Linked DNA regions of Homo sapiens: region 2 is linked to region 1. Evidence: fine-mapped expression QTL. A gene starts in region 1. The other region holds a variant in brackets. All regions are shown on one strand. Distances are from middle to middle.

The links. PIP is the estimated chance that this variant, and not a neighbour inherited with it, causes the effect. A credible set is the group of variants that fine-mapping cannot tell apart.
Region 2: its variant is the best candidate, but not a certain one, in a credible set for the expression of TEKT1 in monocytes after R848 (Quach 2016, PIP 0.82).

What each region holds. Positions count from the first base shown.
Region 1 is chr17:6,830,406-6,833,327 of GRCh38, reverse strand. TEKT1 (tektin 1) reads left to right here and starts at 1,599. Exons shown (of 8, transcript NM_053285.2): 1 at 1,599-1,679. RefSeq lists a silencer at 1,587-1,636.
Region 2 is chr17:6,765,767-6,768,688 of GRCh38, reverse strand. The region is part of intron 5 of XAF1 (XIAP associated factor 1); the gene reads right to left. Among named protein-coding and RNA genes, the nearest start is that of FBXO39, 9.0 kb to the left of the region's middle. The variant C/T (reference allele first, on the strand shown) is at 1,251.

The sequences.
Region 1 (2,922 bases):
TCTTATGTCCAGTATCTTCTTCTTTCTGGATTTTTCACTTTTGCTCTATTATTTTTTTCCATAAAGAATGTACGCTCACCGTTTTGAGTACTGGCATGTCCAAAGAAATCTTTTATTTTGCTCTCATACATGAAATGCTTTGACTGGTTGTAGAATCCCAGATTTGAAATAATTTTCTATAGAATTTGAAGGCATTATCCTAGCATCATTTCTAGCAACCATCATTTCTAGCCACCTGTGTTAGAGACGAAACACTTGATACCTATTCTTTCTTTTTCTTCTTATTCTTTGAATTAAGAAATTCCACCAGAATAGGTATAAAGTTGGCCCTTCCTATCCGTGGATTCTACATCCTTGGATGCGATGACACACAAATAAAAAATATTCAGGAAAAAAATTCCACAAAGCTCCAAAAAGCAAAACTTGAATTTGTTGCACCCTGAGTGCTATGTTGAATCCATGCGAATGAAGCGATGAGTAGGCATGGTTAGACATTGTATTAGGTATTGTATTAGGCATTGTATTAGGTATTATATTAGGTATTAGGTGTTGTATTATGTATTGTATTATGTATTGCATTAGGCACTGTATTAGGCACTATATTAGGTATTGTATTAGGCATTGTATTAGGTATTGTAGCAATCTAGAGATGACGTAAAGTATGCCTATCTAGGGATGTGCGTAGGTTATATACAAATGCTACACCACTTTATATGAGACTTGAGAATCTGCAGATTTCAGTATCTGAGGGGGATCCTGGAGCTAATCACTCTATGGATTATATGCATAATCCACAGGGAGGACTATATGTAAGGAATGGGGGTGTGTGTTAATTTCAGGTGGGTCGTTAATCTAAAGACTTGAGTCTTTGGCTCAAGTTATCTCTCTCTCACTTTCACAATTGTTTTGCCATTCTCTCTCTTTTTTTCTTTCCTTCTGGAAGTCCTACTTGACAAATATTAAATCTTCTGGAGCTATCCCCTCAGATTTAATTTTTCTCCCATATTTTCCATCTCCTAGTGGATGCAGAGTGACTTCTGGAGTGTTTGCCTGAAGGCGTTCTACTCACACACCTGCCCTCACAGAGTGCCCCATCGGGCGCCCCACGCAGAAATAAGCCAGTTGTGGTAACAGACCTATACAAACTCTGGAGGAAACTCATTGTAGCTTACAGAAACAATCAACTTGGCTTCCTGATTTTTAACCCTCAATTTCGCCTGCGACTGCGAGGTCCTGGAGGCATCGCCCAGCCCAACCCCACTGTACAGCCGGGAAGTCTGAGAGCCGGGGTACAGCGCGACCCGAGATGATCCCGCCCGCGGGAGGGCTCGGACTAGACGCAGGTCTCCTGACTCCCAGCTCGGGGCTTTGGCCGCTGTCTTCTGCTTGGTGCCCCGCGTCTTCGCGGTAGGTTGAGGTGGCCGGAGCATCTGGCCCTACCCTTCCCACACGCCACACTCCTGGGTCTCTGGCTCTGGGGTCCGCAGAATTTGCGCCTGCGCTAAGCCTTTGGCCAGGCTGCTCAGTGGCGGAACCAGCCCTCTTTGCCCTGGCAACGCGTCACTTGTTGTCATGGAGACCGCGTTGTTTACCTCTCTGTTCTGCAAGAGCTGGAAGCTCCAGTTGGGGTAAGGAGGCTCCCATCCCGAGCTTGCGTAGTGGTTCTGTGTGGCGCTGAGGTAAGTAAACCATGACCCCACCCCACCGACCCCTACCCGCAACCCTCCCCGCCTAACCAAATCCTTATGACGTTGGGATGAGCCCTAATTTAGGTCCCCACCTCTCTGGGGGCTATTCAGACTTATCCAGGAGCCTTGGGTTAAATGCTGGGCTCCACACTCAGATAAATTCGGTAGAAGCCATAAAAGGGACTGGGCTAGGAAGAAACGGAGAAACTCCATGTTGTCTGAGGGGGCTGGGTGGGCTGAGGTTCTCAGCCTAGTCAAGATCTGACTCTAGTTTCATCCTTATATATGTGAAGGCTTCAGAGATCCAGAGGCCCCTAAGAGCAGGGACTCAGACCTTAGGGTAGAGATGGGAGTGGGGGCAGATTTCAGCCCTGTCTGAGGAAGGCAGTTCTCATGGTCCATCAGAGTTGTATGAAGATGAAATGGGTAATTTTAGCGTTTCCACTGCCGACAGCCTCTGCCAGCTGGCTTCCCCTGTGTTGTTCCCCTTCCTGTTCTCTCCTTTTCTTTGTCCTGGAAGTTTTCAGATTCTTTTATGTGTTGAACAAGTTCAATACCCAGTTGTCAGTTTACACATGTTACATTTCCTCCTCCTCCTCCTCCTCCTCCTCCTTCTTCTTCCTCTTCTTTTTCTTCTTCTTTTTTTAAGAAAACATCTCTGGGCTCATCTGTTTGGCAGAACATTACTCCATGACCCAACAATTCTAATGAGTTATAAAAATGCATACACGTGTTCACCAAAAGACATGTATGAGACTATTAATAGCATTCTCATTATGGCCCTGGAGTGTAAACAACCCAAATATCCATAAACAGTAGAAAAGACAGCTAGATTTTATTCATATAACGGCACCTACACAGCAACGAGAACGAACAAACTGCAATCATATAGACAATATGGATGAATTTTACAAACATAATGTTGAGCTAAAGAAGTCAGAGACAGAATAATACATACTGTATTATTCCATTTATGTTAAATTCAAAAACAGCAAAACGAATTTGTAGTGTTAAAAGTCAGGATACTGGTTACCCTGAGGGGCTTGAGGTGGAGTAACTGGGAGGAGGTTAGAGATGCTGGTAATGCTTGTTTCTTGGTTTGGGTGCCGGCTACACAGATAGATTTATTTTGTGTACAGATTATGATTTATGCAATTTTCCGTATATATGTCATCCTTGAATAAAAATTATCATAAAAAAGGACAAATTGCTTTCATTTAATCTAAAAGAGTCT
Region 2 (2,922 bases), 65 kb after region 1:
CAGAAGTGGGATGGCAGTGGAATAATCTTCAAAATGATAAGAGAAAATAGCTGTTAATCTAGATTTTGATATCCAGCTAAACTATCATTCATGGATGCAAAAAACAAAAAGCTTATTTTCAGGCAACTAAAGATTTACTACTCAAGGTTCTTGGTGAAGAAGCTACTGAGATGTATTTCAGGAAGAGAGAAATCATACCCAGAAGGAAAGCTTAGGATCCAAGGAAGAATGTGAGTAAAGAGAAGGGTAAACTTGTGAGTATATCCAGCCGGGCACAGTAGCTCATGCCTGTAATCCTAGCACTTTGGGAGGCCGAGGTGGGCAGATTATGTGAGGTCAGGAGTTCAAGACCAGCTTGGCCAACATGGAAAAGCCCATCTCTACTAAAAATACAAAAATTAGCCAGACGTGGTGGCACACACCTGTAGTACCAGCTACTTGAGAGGCTGAGGCAGGAGAACTGCTTGAACCCAGGAGGCGAAGGCTGCAGTGAGCCAAGATCGTGCCACTGCACTCAAGCCCAGGCAACAGAGTGAGACTTTTGTCTCAAAAAAAAAAAGAAAGAAAGAAAGAAAAAAAGCAAAAACAAAAACATGTGAGTATATCTAAACAGGCATGAGTTACATAAATAACAACAATAATCAGTAAAGAGGGGTAGTATGAAAGCAAAATGAAACAAAATTCTGGCAGCATTTTCATGTAAGATAGTTACAGTGTTAACATGTTCTCAAATCTATATACTATTTGTAAGGAAAGTAGAGATAATGACTAACTTTAGACTTTATTAAGTCAAGTATTTATATTAAAATGTTAAGGGTAACTATTGAAATGATAGAAATAAATGTAAAATTGACGAATCAGTAGGAAAGAAGAAAGAGAATAAAGAAATCTTGCTCAATCCAATAGAATACAAGGGAGAAGCAAGCAGCAGCAGCAGCAGCAGCAGCAGCAGTAGTAATGAACAAGAGTGGTAAATGCAAGGCCCCAAAACGATGGGGGAAAATTATTGTTAACATCATTGAGAGTGATAAAGGCATTGTGATTAAGAAAATGACTGTATTTTTGAGATATTAAAGAATGATGGTGAAATAACAGGATATCTTGGATTTGCTTTAACATACTTTAGAAAAAAGAAAACAAACAAAGTATAGTTCAAGCCTGGAAAACTTTTGATTTCCACGTGTTAACAGCTATTTTCTCTTAGCACTTTGAAGATTATTCCACTGCATACCCACTTCTATTATTGCTGT[C/T]GATATATTTGCTTTCAGCCTAACTGCCATTCCTTTGCTTGTAATCTTCTTCGGCTGATTTCAAAGAAATCAACCTTTGCCTTTTACCTGTAATGTATCTAAGAGTAGATTTATTTTTATTCACCTTGTTTAGAACAACAACTGTTGTATCTGGGGAGTAAATACATGAATGTTTATTGTATTAACTTTCTACTGTCATATTTATTTGAAAGTTTTTGTAATCAATTTTATTTCTTTTATTTTTAGTGGACAAGTAATAATGATACATACTTATAGAATACAGAATGATTTTCTAATACATGTATACAGTGTGTAGTGGCCAAATCAGAATTGTAATAAGATTTTTAATAAACAGATTAAGATGGTCAATAGATTCTATAGCCACCCAAGCTTTCATTTTCAGACATATAAGGCCTAAAAAATTTGCCTCTCATGCTTTCTTTCTCAAGAAACTATTTGGGGATATGTTCTATCAAACAAGGAGTAACCTAAGAAAGAGAAAGATGAGACCTGAGATTTGGGAATCAGAACTCCAACCGTGGAGAGAGTGGAAGAAATTCCAGACCAACAGCTAATCATCAAGCCTGGGGCATAACATGCTCCCAAAATGAAATGGACAGACTATCTGATGTGTGTAGTTGTACTCAGGGGAATTTTCAGATCTGGTAGAGAATTTTAGGGATGATTTAGTGATAGGTACCTAGAAAGTGAAGCAAATGAAAAACCGAAGCAATTATTAAGTCCAGGTAAAACAAAAAGTTGTAGGAGAAAGAACACATAATCACAATTCATGTGGAAAACCATTTATAATGTTTACATGGTTATACTAATGTAATACTGAATATTTATTTAACCAGAATGAGTGAAATCAATACATTGGAAGGATGAAATGAAGAACTTTGGAGGTGTGTGTGTGGGATGGGTGGTATAAAAAAGTGAAATCTATATTCCTAAATCCTTATGAGTCAATAAGTAATATCTAAAACTGGAAAAAATATAAGAAGGTGCTTTAGACATATGAAGGTGATTACCAGAAGAAACAGCTAAAAGCAAAAGTAGAGTATTTGTGTCTGGGGAGTAGTTAGCATGAAGGGGACCAGTGGGGCTTATAGTTTTTCTGAGGTCGTGGGAGACAATTAACAAGGGCCATAATAAGTAAGTAAATTAGATAATATGTTAGAAGTTGGCAAATGCTATGGAAAAAATAATAGAAGAAGGTAAGGGGTTGGTAAATATGTGATGGAGAGGGAGTTGCAATTTTAAATAGGTTGTTGTGGTACATCTCCTTGAGAAGGTGCCATCTGGGCAAAGACTTGAGAGAAGTGAGAGAGTTAGCTCCTGGAGTAGGGTGGGGAAGGTGAGGAGGTAGCTTCCAGCCAGAGGCAGTAGCCAGTGAAAAGGCCCTAAGGCATGGTATGCTCAAGAAACAATCAGGAGGCCAGTGAGCTGAACAGGAGTAGTACATGAGATCAAAGAGGTGATGAGATAAGAAGGGAGGCAAAGATGACATAGATCTCTAAAGCCACTGTAGTTTTGAGTTTGCATAAAATGGGGCAAGAATCAGTACAGAGATCTGAACAGAGGAGCCAAACAATCTGACTTGTATTTTTAAGGGATCACGTTGACCTCTGTGATGAGAATAGACTGTAGGGGGCAAGGTGAGAAGTAGGAA